Linked DNA regions of Homo sapiens. The protein of the gene in region 4 purifies or fractionates together with the protein of the main gene of each other region. This does not show direct contact. Each region holds a gene or a part of one and is shown on either strand. Other genes may lie near its edges.

The links. The genes of interacting proteins can lie anywhere in the genome.
Region 1: the proteins of RAB30 (region 4) and DPH1 purify together in Homo sapiens (affinity purification with mass spectrometry; 2 studies listed by BioGRID and IntAct, with this or other methods). This does not show direct contact.
Region 2: the proteins of RAB30 (region 4) and TRAPPC9 purify together in Homo sapiens (affinity purification with mass spectrometry; 2 studies listed by BioGRID and IntAct, with this or other methods). This does not show direct contact.
Region 3: the proteins of RAB30 (region 4) and D2HGDH purify together in Homo sapiens (affinity purification with mass spectrometry; 2 studies listed by BioGRID and IntAct, with this or other methods). This does not show direct contact.

The regions. Positions count from the first base shown.
Region 1 is NC_000017.11:2,028,911-2,032,952, forward strand, and holds the start of DPH1 (2-(3-amino-3-carboxypropyl)histidine synthase subunit 1), read left to right. Parts: upstream 1-1,242; 5' UTR 1,243-1,244; coding exon of another isoform or gene 1,245-1,259; coding exon 1,260-1,320; intron 1,321-4,042. UniProt on the Homo sapiens protein: Catalyzes the first step of diphthamide biosynthesis, a post-translational modification of histidine which occurs in elongation factor 2.
Region 2 is NC_000008.11:140,433,745-140,437,244, forward strand, and holds part of TRAPPC9 (trafficking protein particle complex subunit 9), read right to left. Parts: intron 1,497-3,500; coding exon 1,368-1,496; intron 1-1,367. UniProt on the Homo sapiens protein: Functions as an activator of NF-kappa-B through increased phosphorylation of the IKK complex. May function in neuronal cells differentiation. May play a role in vesicular transport from endoplasmic reticulum to Golgi.
Region 3 is NC_000002.12:241,741,130-241,744,629, reverse strand, and holds part of D2HGDH (D-2-hydroxyglutarate dehydrogenase, mitochondrial isoform 1 precursor), read right to left. Parts: intron 2,196-3,500; coding exon 2,056-2,195; intron 1,009-2,055; coding exon 815-1,008; intron 1-814.
Region 4 is NC_000011.10:83,065,398-83,068,897, forward strand, and holds part of RAB30 (ras-related protein Rab-30), read right to left. Parts: intron 1-3,500. UniProt on the Homo sapiens protein: The small GTPases Rab are key regulators of intracellular membrane trafficking, from the formation of transport vesicles to their fusion with membranes.

The sequences.
Region 1 (4,042 bases), on a different chromosome or scaffold from region 4:
AGGGCCTCTGGGGGAGCCCGAGGACACAGAGCTGACTTAAAGGGCCAGCTGTGATCACAGCACCACCGCAGAGAGAGGAGGAGGATGCCAGGGGGCTGGGTAGACCGTCAGACCTGGAAGACCATTGTTCCACGGGACAGACTGCTGAGGGCCAGTCCTGCAGGTACTTTGCTCTTCCACAGGTCAAAGCCGTCTCACTGGCTGTCTTCTCTTTGGGGTCTCTGGGGCTCTGGCCAGTGATCAGGAGAAAGACCAGCCCTGAGGGGCAGGGCAAAGGTTGGCCAGGGTCCAGAAGGGTTAGACATCACAGTCCTCCACTGCCCACCTTCCCAGGAAAGCACCCTCAGGCTGTGGGCCTTCCCCAGAGGGGCAGTTTCTACAGGGTCTACGCAGTGGATTCTAAAGGTGATAAAGGCTGGGTGCAGTGGCTCGCGCCTGTAATCCCAGCACTTTGGGAGGCCAAAGTGGGAGGATTGCTTGAGTCCAGAGGTTCAAGACCAGCCTGAGCAAAATAGTGAAACCTTATCTCTACTAAAAAAAAAAAAAAAAAAAAAAAAAAAAATTAGCTGAACGTACGCCTGTGGTCCCGGGTACTCAGGGGGCTGAGGCAGGAAGATGAATTGAGCCCAGAAGGTTGAGACTGCTGTGAACCATGATCGCACCACTGCACTCCAGCCTGGGCGACAGACCAAGACCCTGTCTCAAAAAAAATAATTTAAAAAGCTGATAAGGGCGATCCACAAACCTGCACCAAGACTCTCAACTTGGAGCTGGGCTGGTGGTCCCTGAGTTCTGTCCTGCCGGACAGTAGAGTCCCCCTAGGTAGGGAACGTGGCCCCACACGGCGGCCGGGTGACCGACCACTGCTTACCAGGAGGGGAGACTGGCAGGGGGGGCTCAAGGAACATCTGGTGGGTGTCCCCTTCACAAGACTCGGCCTGCAGAGTTCGTGCAGGGAGTTCGCACATAGGAGAGCACCGGTCCGGGAGTGCCAGGCTCGTGCCCGGCCGGGGAGAGGAGTGGGAGACTAAGTCGCAGGGCAAGGGCAACTGCATAGTCGGGGACCTCTAGGGAATCCTGAGTCCCGGCATTCTGGGCTGGGGTGGAGCCCACTACAGCCCCGCCCCTATCTCCTCCTTTATGGCCCCGCCCAGCGGGTATCCCCCGCCCCCGCTGGCCGATCGGCGATCGATCGCAATGTCTGCGCTCTCCGCGTTCTTCCAGCGCTGTCTTTTTAGTACCACATGCGCAGGCAGGTGATGGCGGCGCTGGTCGTATCCGGGGCAGCGGAGCAGGGCGGCCGAGACGGCCCTGGCAGAGGTGGGTGCTGGAACGCTGCGCCCTCCAGACCTCGCATCTCGGGGCGGGGCCCCCAAGTTAGGGACAGGACCAACCCCCTTTAACGGCGGCGGCGCCTTTCTCCGCTAGATCCCGCTGTTAGTCGCCTTGGGCCGCTGTCACCAGCTCGGGGTCGCTGTCAGCCGGAGCCCAGGGGTACCAGTCTTTTGCAGCTTTAGGGCACGACCGAGAGCAGCCCTTAATCCTCCAATCGGAAACTACAGCCTTGTCTTGGCGGGTAGACGGATAAAATGGACTCGACGGGGAGGGAAAGGGCCAGGCCAGATGCAGCGGGCATTTTACGAGTGCGCCCTCAGGGAATGCTTTCAGGGAAGAGGCAAAAGGTTTCATTCGCCAGGCATTAACTGAGCGCCCACCGAATGCCAGGCCTGCGCTGGGTGCAGGTACTAGAATCAGAGATCTCAGTCTACTGGGGGAATGTTAATGTAAACATATCATAGCCACGTGATAAAGGAGGAGGTGCCTACTGGTCCCTGGGACACATTGAAGGGCTAATGTTAGCAGTTCCTTACACGCCAGCGACCACTAGGGACCTGTCAGAGGAGGATCTGTAATGGGCCTAGGAAGCCTAGGCTGATTGTCCAAGGCTTTTGAAACAACTGGCCAAAAACCATAGCAGTGGTAACGTTCAAATCTGATCTCAGGGCCCCAGCCTCCGCTGGACCATCCCCACCGCCGCCCACACAGTGGGTGAAGCCTCATGTCTGGGCGGGTCCCTCCTATCATAGTGTGGGGCCCTAGCAGAAGTTGTGGCACATAGCACAGTCTCAATACATATTCGTTGAATAAGTTAATTTCTTGCCTTTTCATATCCTCAGACTCTGTGGCTCCTGAAGAGATAACGGGGTTGAACTAAGCTTAATTGTCGGGGCAGGGCATAGTGGCTTACACCTTTAGTCTGAGCACTTTGGGAGGCTAAGGAGGATTGTGTGAGCCCAGGAATTCCACACCAGTCTGGGAAACATAGGGGGACCCTGTATGCACAAAAAAATAAAAAATAGCCGTGCGTGGCCGGGCACGGTGGCTTACACCTGTAATCCCAGCACTCTGGGAGGCTGAGGCGGGCGGATTACCTGAGGTCAGGAGTTTGAGACCAGCCTGGCCAACATGGTGGAAACCCTGTCTCTACTAAAAATACAAAAATTAGCCGCGTGTGGTAGCACACGCCTGTAATCCCAGCTACTCGGGAGGCTGAGGCAGGAGAATTGCTTGAGTCCGAGAGGCTGAGGTTGCAGTGAGCCGAGATTGCACCACTGCACTCCAGCCTGGCCAACAGACAGAGTGAGACTCTGTCTCAAAAAAAAAAAAAAAAAAAAAAATTAGCCCTGCGTCTTGGCACATGCCTGTGGTCCTAGCTACTGGGGAGGCTGAGGTGGGAGGATTATCGTTTGAGCCCAGGACGTCGAGGCCGCAGTGGACCATGATTGCACCCCTGCACTCCAGCCTGGGTGATGGAGTGAGACCCTGCCTTAAAAAATAATAAGATGAATTGTTTATTCAGCTTATTATTTTTTATCCTACTTAGGAGTAGGATGAGACCAGAGTAAGAGTTGCAGTTTGCTAAGGGCTACGGTTTCCCCTTTACTCCAGGAGTTGTAATTATGTGTATACCTGTCTTTTCCCCCACTAGACTGCTGGTCTCTAAGGGACAAGGTCACTTTTCTGTCCTTACTGGTACGTCCACCACCCTGACTCAAGTGTTCTTTCCATCCTTCCTGGTTTAAGAGTAAGGAGGAGCAATGGGACAGCTAAGTCAGTTAAATGTATGATGTTTATTTCCCTTTTAAATGAGGAGAGGTAAGCGTGAAAGAACGAACAGTGTGGCCACAGTCAGTGGGGTTCTGAGTCAGGAGGGCAGTCTTTTAAGTTAGTATTCATGTTTAACGGTTTGCTTATAGACCTCATATCTAGAAGCTCAAAACTTCAAGGTGTCCTCAGGAGGTGGGAGAGGGGGGACATTCTCCCAGGCTGGCTGGGCTGGCTAGACTGACTCTTAGGTTTTCCGCAGGGCTGTTCTCTATCAGGGAGCAGTATATGGACTCAGACTCATTCTTTGCCCCTTAGCCCCTGGTGTCACCTCTGTTCTCCTGAGGAAGAAGGTGAGCCATATTCTATTCATGGGCTCAAGTCTTCGATTCCCAGTGATTTCACAACATGGAAATTATACCGGTTACCTTCTGGCTTAATGAATTGTCTCTACCTTCAGGATGAATTCAGTGAGAACGAAAGCTGGGCCAACCCCCTTGGTGTCTGGATCTGGCCCTTAAACTTGGTGGAGTTAACAGCTTAGCTGGGTCTTGTTACCAAACTCAACTTGGGTCTTCCCATCCACACAAAGCAAAAGCCAAACACTGACATGGAGATTTGCAGGGAGAGAACAAGCATTTATTGTAAGGCACCAAGCAGGGAGACTGGGCAGCTAAAGCTTAAGACCTAAACTTCCTGATGGCTTACAAGCAAAGGGTTTTTATTTTATTTATTTATTTATTTTTGAGATGGTGTCTCGCTCTGTTGCCCAGGCTGGAGTGCAGCGGCGTGATCTCGGCTCACTGCAAGCTCCGCCTCCCGGGTTCACCCCATTCTCCTGCCTTAGCTGGGACTACAGGTGCCTGCCACCAGGCCCGGCTAATTTTTTGTATTTTTAGTAGAGAGTAGTATTTCCCCGTGTTAGCCAGGATGGTCT
Region 2 (3,500 bases), on a different chromosome or scaffold from region 4:
CACAAAAAAGATAAGCCTGAGGCAGAAGAATAGGATCTAGAGGCAAAGAACTTAAGGTTGTTTCACACAGACTTCCTACAACTACATTGAAAGGAAAACCCTAACTTTCCATGACTAAGTAACAAAAGGACCAGAGGCTGCTCCCTTTGACCTTTTCTGCATGGCAGGTGGGAAACTGGCTGTCCGGAACCACTCAGACTGATTGCTGGTGGAGTCTTAGTTTGCAGAGAAGTATAACTTTGTCTACTTTTCATTTGCATAGAAGCATAACTTTGTAACTTCACCTTAGCCTCTGAGTGGCTGCTTTCCGCAACCAATCAGACTAACTGCAGGCTACCACTTCATTTACAAGAGGTGAGCATGAAGTGGCCAATGGGAAACTTCTAGTGGGTATTTAGACCCAAGAAGATTCTGTATCCGTGCCCTTGAGCCCGCTGCTCGGCCCACTCCCACACTGTGGAGTGTACTTTCGTTTTCAATAAATCCCTGCTTTCATTATTTTGTTGCTTCCTTCTTTGTGACCTATGCAACATGATGACTAAATCCTGAGCCATTAAAGGCAGGTTCATTCATCAAGGACCAAAACGTTCATGTTCATTCAGCATTCGTGGGTCTGCTCTACCCAAGAAGTTTTCTCACTCTTCATTGGTTCTACCAAGCATAAGCAAATCAAACAACTCATTGAGAGAATGTCATCAGCCAATAAAATAAGAAACTGCTCCCAGGCCCTGAATCAGCTTATTAAAATTGACCTCTGGGACTAGCTTCTCCTAATACATAAAATTATAAAAAAGACTTAGACACAGAACCTCAAGTCTGTTCTACCAGGAAATTTTACACAAGTATTCCAGAAATCAACCAATCATTCTAACCCATTAGTGGTATTCAGTAAGATTGAAAGTATTCAATAAAATCAGAACAAAATGTCTCATACAAGATTTCTGGGCAGGGCATGGTGGCTCACGCCTGTAATCCCAGCACTTTGGGAGGCCGAGGCGGGTGGATCACGAGGTCAAGCATTCGAGACCAGCCTGGCCAACATAGTGAAACCCCGCCTCTATTAAAAATACAAAAAATTAGCCATGTGTGGTGGCGGGCGCCTGTAATCCCAACTAGTCAGGAGGCTGAGGGAGGAGAATTGCTTGAACCTGGGAGGTGGAGGCTGTGGTGAGCCGAGATTGCGCCACTGCACTCCAGCCCGGGCAACAGTGCAAGACTCTGTCTCAAAAAAAAAAAAAAATTACTGACTCAACAGATTTTACAGTTTATTTAAATATTAGTCCTAACTCAAAGGAAAAAGTAACAAATGAGTCTGCTTTATTTAAAGACTGCAAGTGAGCAGAGGCCGGAAAAAGGGCAGAGCTCACCTGGCCGGTGTCTATTGGCTGCTTCAGCAGGAAGGGTGCTGCCCTGGAACCTCCGAGCTCCACTCTTCCCACCAGTTCCACCAGGATAGTGATAGATGACAGAAGCTGAACACAATCCTTCCAGGGCAGCTGGGCATTAAGAAAACAAAAAACAAAAACCAGAAAACAAAAAACAAAAACCAGCATCATTAGTCAAGTCAGTGACCCTTCATTAGCTCAAACTGCAGTAACTAACAATGATTTAAACAGGTGGATTATTTGGAAATGCCAATTTTTCTCCCAAAACAAAGATCAAACCTAAAGATCACTAGTTTTTTGCAAATGGGAACTTGCCACCTGTCTTTCCCATGCCCATGTCCAGGCAGGCAATGCAGAACACTCTCACCACACTCAAGGTTTCCCTGCAGGGCTGACTGCACACGTAAAACAGGCCAGCCTCTGCGTTCATCCATTCACGTGGCCGGCATTCCTGCACAAACTGTGTGGCAGACTGCGCCAGGTTCTGGAGCTACAGAGATGTATAACAGAAAGTGCCCTGGATTGAAAATATTTCACAGTAATAGCACCAAAGCAAGACCAGAATGCCTTTCCAGACCATGCACCCCATAGGCATCTGCTCCTTTTGAGGTTGTAGTCCTCCCTCTTCCTCAAAAACAGCCATATTAACTCGCTACACAGTCCGTTCTTCTCTCATGACGTAACAACCTAATAATCTCCAGCTATGCCACATGCCTTAGAAGGTGTGCCACAGTATTCATCTCTATCATCTTTATCCATTAACTCAGTGCTCCTTAAACTTTTGGTCTAAAAACTCCTTGATGCTCTTAAAAATGACTTAGGATCACAAAGAGCTTTTTTTGTGATGTGGGTTACACCTGTAGATATTTACCATATTGGAAAATAAAACTGAGAAAAGGATTTAAGTATTTATGTATTAATTCCTCTTAAAATAGGCCAGACGCAGTGGCTCATGCCAGTAATCCCAGCACTTTGGGAAGCCAAGGTGGGTGGATCACTTGAGGTCAGGAGTTCAAGACCAGCCTGGCCAACATGGTGAAACCCTGACTCTACTAAAAATACAAAAATTGGCCAGGCATGATAAAACACACCTGTAGCCCCAGCTACTCGGGAGGCTGAGGCAAGAGAATCGCTTGAACCTGGGAAATGGAAGTTTCAGTGAGCTGAAATCACGCCATTGCACTCCAGCCTGGGCGACAGAGTGAGACTGACTCAAAAAAATAAAAATAAAAAATAAAATAATAAGCTTGTCATGTGTTAACAGTTTTATGAAAAATAATTGTTTTCCAAAACAAAAATAAAGTACTGGAGGAATGGCATTATTTGACATGTTCACACATTTCTTTAATATCAGAGTTAATACAAGTCAGCTGGATCTTCTATCAGCTTCTACATTCAGTCTGCTGTGATGTCAGGCCTAAGTAGCTTGTGGACAACTCCACTGTCCACTTCTGAGAGGCTGAGCATGGAAGAGGCCCACGGCACACAGCACCGTCCTTCTCTGTGTGCCCTTTAGGAGCCCTCCTCATCCAGTCCAGCGCCGCATGGGGAAGGCATATGGGCAGTACCAGTCTTTCTGGAGAAGCACCTGCTGCACATGCCCTAGTCTCAGAGCCCACTGGGAGATGCACAGATTCTCTAATTGATACAATAAGGAGTACTTAGGGAGACAATGCTCTTTCAAGAAAACCAAGTAAAACTATGTCTTTCTCAGCCTGCATAATCCTTTATCTGATTCTCTTTTCTTTTCCATCCCTAATTCTTACTCCCTTTCTTTCCCCACTTCTATTTCCCTAGCCTCTTTAAAAAACTAAATTTAAGTCCATTTTAAGTTTTATTTTGGTTTTTTCTTAAGAGACAAAGTCTCACTCTTGCTCAGGATGGAGTGCAGTGGTGCGATCGTGGCTCACTGCAGCCTTGACCTCCTGAGCCCAAGCGATCCTCCTGCCTCACCCTCACAAGTAGCTGGGACTACAGGCACAGACCACCAAGCCCAGCTAATGTCTTTTTATTTTATTTTATTTTATTTTATTTTGGTAGAAGTGAGGTCTCCCTATGTTGCTCAGGCTGGTCTCCACCCAGTTAATGTTTTTTAATTTTGTTTTGTAGAAGTGA
Region 3 (3,500 bases), on a different chromosome or scaffold from region 4:
TTCTGCAGCAGCCTGAGGTCATGCCAAGAGGCTGAAGGATGGACTTTCCTCCTGTACGAGTGACACCCTCCACACACAGCAGCTCACTGCCCAGGGGGCACGCCCGGGGTCGGGGGCAGTGGGGAGGCTCCCTGGGAGTAGGGCGTGAGCCCAGCCCAGGACCCAGCCACCTCTGGACCCACCAGCCATAAGGCATCAAAGCTCCCGAGCTGTGGGCCTCTCCGAGTCCTGTGTGCTGGTACTGTGAGTCGGAGGCCTACACAGCTCATGAGTGCAAAAAAGTAATTTACAATAAAGATAATCAGTGGCTGGCCAGAAAAAAAAGCTACTGAAGCGTCATAATTTACTGGATGGCACCAAAGCATGGTTTTGTGTTTGCTTCGTCCACTTGGGTAAACAGGACAGAGAGCTCTGCCTGTGACACTCGGCTGGTGAGGGTGCGGGTAAACAGAGGGGCCCTGGAGGAACAGTGGGCAGCAGAAGGTCACGAAGCTGACCCTGGATGAGCCTTCCTTCACACCCGGCTCCCAGAAGCCCACCACTGCCGGGGCGGTGTCCCCTGTAACTGCATCCTCTCTGTGTGGCCCCGAGGCAGTGGACACAAAATCACCCTCTCGTGGGAGGACAGGGCAGGGCCAGGCCTCCCTCAGGATGGGGGTGTATGTAGCCCACACATCCTTGAGGGGCCCAGGGCCAGGAACCAAGACCTCCCACCCCGAGGGGCCCCATGCACCTGTGCCACCACGTGGGCCCATGAGAGCCGTGAGAGGACACCCCGTGGCGACCTCTGCACCAAGCAGCTGCCCCAGCTCACCACTTCCAGGCCCAGGACAGTCCCATGCAGTGAGCCATATCGAAGAAACCGCAGGCCTCCAGCGTTGGTTGCCACGTTTCCCCCGATGTGGCAGCTGCCCTTGGCTCCTAAGTCCAGCGGCATGATGAAGTCCCGTTCCTCCACATACCGGCTCAGCTCCTCCAGGACGCAGCCCGCCTGGCAAACCAGAATTCCTGCAGAGAGTGACCAGGCTGCCGCAGCACTTGGCTTCCAGTGGGCCCCCGGGCTGGTGAGTCCCAACCCCCATCTTGCACAGGCAAGCCACCCAGAAGGAACATCAGCCTCAGCGCCAGGGCTGAGGAGAAGAGGCACCCCCACATCGCTGGCCCAAGGACGAAAACATCTGGGCCTCACAGGACCTTTATAATTATGGTGACACAAAAAAAAAATGAGTAACATGAAAAGAGAGGAAAAAACTTCCCACCCCCACACACACTCGTGGAAAGGAGTAGAAGAGGGAAGATTCTCAGCTGGGGCTGATCCTGCCCTGGGCATGTGGGACAATGCCTGGGTTGGGGGTGCCATGGGCACCTTGTAGGCGGAGGCCAAGGATGCTGCTCAACACCCAACAGTGCAGGCGCCCGACCACAGAGTGACCGGGGCCTGGAGCCCGGCCTTGCGGGGAGAGGCCCAGCTCCAGAGCAGGACCCTGGCGCCCTGGGTCAGGATCCCCTCATGCCTGCCACGCCCTGGCACCCTGGGTCAGGATCCCCTCACGCCTGCCACGCCCTGGCGCCCTGGGTCAGGATCCCCTCACGCCTGCCACGCCCTGGCGCCCTGGGTCAGGATCCCCTCATGCCTGCCACGCTCTGGCGCCCTGGGTCAGGATCCCCTCACGCCTGCCACGCCCTGGCGCCCTGGGTCAGGATCCCCTCACGCCTGCCACGCCCTGGCGCCCTGGGTCAGGATCCCCTCATGCCTGCCACGCCCTGGCACCCTGGGTCAGGATCCCCTCACACATGCCACTCTGCACCTCACACACCTCTAGAGCGGGATGGAGTCGGAAGGGACCAGAATGACAAGCCCTCACCAGCACGCATGTCTGGAGGGGCCGGGCGAGGTGGGGCTAGGCGGCCAGGCTACAGACGCTGGTTCTTTCCCCAGCGCCGGCCCTAACTCATTCACCCACCCAAGCACCCCACAGTTGCAGACGCTGGCAAGGAAGAACTCCACCAGCACCAGGAGGGACTCCTGGGCCCCGACGGGTGGCACAGGCTTACCAGACACGCTGTGGAAGCTGAGGACCCGGTTCATGCGGGCAGTGGAGAGGATGATCTCGTCAAAGACGGGGACGCTGCCACCCACCATGCCTGTGTTGCCCCCCTGTGGGTTCACGGCCAGGTTCCTCTCGTGGCAGTGCCTGGGATGAGGACAGGAGGGACGTTGGGGCTCTGTCCCCACCCCTACGCCACCATCCCCAAGGACACGCCGCAGGACCAGTGCCTGACTCCAAATCCTGATTACCCTGCCCTGCCTGCAGCCTCAGCGGGGGCTCCTCCCCAGCCCACGCATGTGAGGGATTCTGAGGAAGGACAGAGGCCAATCCGAAAGCTGTGCACAGGGAGACGGAAGTGGAGGCCCCGATTCTGACGTCCTACAAGGCTTCCCTCAAAGGACAGAACGTCCTACACGCCCGGCTCCCATCCTTCCCGTTCACACCATGCTCACAGAGGGTCCAGCTCAGGGTTCCTCGACCGCACTGCCCCCACTGCCTTCCACCCTCTGCCTGCATCTCCCCACCCTCGGCCCATTATCCCCCAGACGTGTGCCCAAGGATACCTCCCTCCCAACCAGCCTGCACCTTTGCAAAGCCCCAAAGCCTAGAGCACACCCAGTGGCTAGGGGTTTGGAGAAACCAAAGTTCCGTGCTCTGGGAAAAGGAATCTGCCCATGTACATGAAATAAACCCTGGAGACAGCAAGCCCCACACATGAAATAAACCCTGGAGACAGCAAGCCCCACACATGAAATAAACCCTGGAGGCAGCAAGCCCCACACATGAAATAAACCCTGGAGACAGCAAGTCCCACACATGAAATAAACCCTGGAGACAGCAAGCCCCATACATGAAATAAACCCTGGAGACAGCAAGCCCCATACATGAAATAAACCCTGGAGACAGCAAGCCCCACACATGAAATAAACCCTGGAGACAGCAAGCCCCATACATGAAATAAACCCTGGAGACAGCAAGTCCCACACATGAAATAAACCCTGGAGACAGCAAGCCCCACACATGAAATAAACCCTGGAGGCAGCAAGCCCCACACATGAAATAAACCCTGGAGACAGCAAGCCCCACACATGAAATAAACCCTGGAGACAGCAAGTCCCAGGGATGGAGTTTAACAGAGTAAGTGCACGTTGCCCCAAAGCACCTGCTGAGGATGATCTAAAGCACTGTCCACAGTCATGGACACCCGGAGACCAGTGCCACCCTGTAGTGTGTTCATGGGGGAGGAGCTTTGCTGTTACAGACAGTGCCAAGAAATGGGCATGGGCATTGCCAAATGGGGGGAAATGATTACACACCACAGATGCATTGAGATAGCACCGAAAAACCACAGAACAAACACTGAGACACACAAACCAAGATGTCATCGGCTGGCTTCGCACCGCGTCACCCCAGCTGCCCACAGGCTCCATGAGGAAATGACCCACAGGC
Region 4 (3,500 bases):
GAAAGGAAAGAGAGAAAAGGAAAGGAATGGAAAGGAAAGGAAAGGAGAAGACAGAGTCTCCCTATGTTGCCCAGGGTGGTCTTGAACTCCTGGGCTCAAGTAATCTTCCTGCCGTGGCCTCCCAAAGTGCTAGGATTCCAGATGTGAGCTACTATGCCCAGCCCCATGGTTAGATTTAAGTTAAGCATTTCTGGCAAAAATTCTACATCAGTGATGTTGTGTACTTCCCATTGAATCAGGTTGTGTAGTTACACTAAATTATCTTTTTCCTCATTTTGTCACTGTGGATACTAAACAAGCACCACCCAATAAATAAAATGTTTAAAAGGATAAATAATGTTAAAAACAGCTACCATGAGCACCAGCTATACCAAGCATAGTGTCAGACATTTAAAACACATGATCTCATCATGTGAACCTCCCAACAACCTTACAAAGAAACAGAGGCTCAAAGAGATTAAGTAATTTGCTCAAGGACACACGCGTATGATACAAAAATATGTGCATGTACGTATGAACTCCAGCACATAAATATGTATACGTATACAATTTAACATGATCTCAAAGGTTCATGGTCTTCCTGAGGACCTTTCAGGCATGAATTAAGAACTGCTACGTTAGGCTAATCTTGAGGAGGCCTACGTAGTTCTCAAAAGTTGGCTTCCTATAAGGAAAAAACTAAAAATAAATTAACTGTGGTCCATATTAAATTCCTCCATACTTGGAAATGCCCTTATTTGGAGATGGATCACATTTCCACCACAGCCAAGAAAATAGGGCAATGGTTCCCTAAATTATTACACTATTCTGATGTTTCATTTCTGCAACAAAATGAGAAAACCCAATGTAGAGAATTTTTCATAAAGCTAAATATATTTTCTATGAGATAAAAGTGAGGAGGCATTTTCAATTTACTACAGAAGAATAACTATTGTTCACAGTACATTCAATTTTATTTTTTGTAATTTTACTAATCTATATAATTCAAAACTCTGAGACCCATTGATTCAGGGAACTCTGTGCAATTAGAATGATTTTTTTGAGAAACTGACTTGAATAAAGGAAGTTCAGCCCAAAAAGAAACCAGATCTGAAATATTTCTGAATTTCCCTAAAAGTGATCACAAAATATCTCAAAAGCTGAAAGTGTCAAGAATACTTTTTTTTGTTTTGAGACAGAGTCTCACTCTGTGGCCCAGAGTAGAGTGCCATGGCACAATCTCGGCTCACAGCAGCTTCCGCCTCCTGGGTTGAAGTGATTCTCCTGCCTCAGCCTCCTGAGTAGCTGGGACTACAGGCATGCACCACTACACCCCCGCCTAATTTTGTATTTTTAGTAGAGACGGGGTTTCACCATGTTGGCCACGCTGGCCTTGAACTCCTGACCTCAGGTGATCCACCCACCTCAGCCACCCAAAGTGTGGGGATTACAGGCGTGAGCCACTGTGCCTGGCCTAGAATACATTTTAATGGGTCTCTTAAAAGCATTTTACATTTGGCATCTGTATTATTACTAATAGTCCTCTTCCAATGTGTTGATATTTCCTGCTTTTGAATAGGCCCTTAGTGACTTAGGTTAATTCACTCACTCTACCAACATTTAGAGTCCCTAATTTGTGTGAGGCATTCTGTTGGGTGCCTGGAAACACAGTCTGGAGCGCTTTTGCTTGCCTTCATGTCTAGGATCAAAGGTGTGGATGCCTCCCGCACCCATCACCCCTACCCCCTAGCCTAGTATTGCCAAAGTACCTCTTTGTACGTGATTATTTACGTTTGTCTCCCTCACCTGAGTGAATTCCTCCGAAGTAAACAGTATCTTATTCAATGTTGTTTTCCTAGCATGGTGCATGGAAAACTGTTATAACAAATAAGTAAACTGAGTATACTGTTGTTTTCCATGCTGGGGTAAGTATAAACTATTGGAATAAATACATTGTACAGATGAGGAAACTAAAGCTCAGAAAAAAAAATGTGATATGTCCAACATCATACAGCTAATAAATAAGCAGTGTCCAGTGTGAGAAAGCCTCGTCCAGAGCTCTCTTCTACTCCATCATGCCACATCCTACACATGGACAGCAAGAGTGAAAGATCTTAGATGTCTTCCAGGAACCTCAAACTCAGCATGTCCAAAGGTCCTCCCTTCGGAAAACAAAAAGACCTGGTTCCCATTCAGTGTTCTCTTTCTCTGAAAACGTCATCCCCAGTTGCTCAAGAAAAAAACTCAAGTCATTTCATGACTCCCTTTTCTCCCTATCCCCCCATCCAATCAATCAACAAATCTTATCAATTACAATTTTCAAAGTTAGTGTCGGCCGGGCATGGTGGCTCATGCTTGTAATCCCAGAACTTTGGGAGGCAGAGGCAGGTGGATCACCTGAGGTCAGGAGTTCGAGACCAGCCTGGCCAACATGGTGAAACCCCATCTCTACTAAAAATACAAAAGTTGCCAGGTGCGGTGGCTCACGCCTGTAGTCCCAGCACTTTGGGAGGCTGAGGCGGGTGGACCATTTGAGGTCAGGAGTTTGAGAGATCAGCCTGGCCAGCATGGTGAGACCCTATCTCTACTAAATATATAAAAATTAGCTGGGAGTGGTGGGTGCCTGTAATCTCAACTACTTGGGAGGCTGAGGCAGGAGAATCGCTTGAATCCAGAGATGGAGGCTGCAGTGAGCTGTGATCATGCCACTGCACTTCAGCCTGGGCGACAGAGTGAGACTCTGTCTCAAAAAAAAAAAAAAAAATACAAACGTTAGCTGAGCATGGTGGCGGGCACCTGTAATCCCAGACAATAGGGAGGCTGAGGCAGGAGAACTGCTTGAACCTGGGAGGCGGAGGTTGCAATGAGCCGAGATTGCGCCATTGTACTCCAGCAAGGGCAACAAGAGCAAAACTCTGTCTCAAAAAAAAAAAACAAAAAACTTAGTGTCTCTCTAAACCCTCTGTCACCACCCTAGATCTAAGCACCATCATCCCTCATACAGACGACAAAAATTATTTGCTACTTGGTCTCTACACATTCACTCTGACCAAGTCTTTCCTTCAATCTCCTCTACTTAACAGCCAGGATAATATTTTAATATCATCCTACATATGCCATTCATCTAGTTTTTTAAAGCCAGGCTAGGTTCTCATTAGCCTTAGGATAAAGACCAAAATACACCTGTAGCTCAAAGAACTGCCTACTCTCTAGCCTCTGCCCACCTCTCCAGCCTCATTCTTCATTCTAGTCTTTCTCCTCTTGCTCTGTCTCTAACTTCCTTTCAAATCCTCAGGTTCACCACTCTTCCCTTTGAACTTTGAACATGAAGTTCCCTCTGCCAGAAACCTTTGTCCCACTATAAGCATCTCCCACTGCCATCCTGAATTACTACTTCCGTTTACCCTCCAAGTCTCTTGAAGTGTCACTTCCTATAGGAAACCTTTCCTGATAACCCTAGACAAGGGGAAAGTACCATGTCAGGCACTCCTACCCAACCCTTTTGGAAATGGCATTCATCA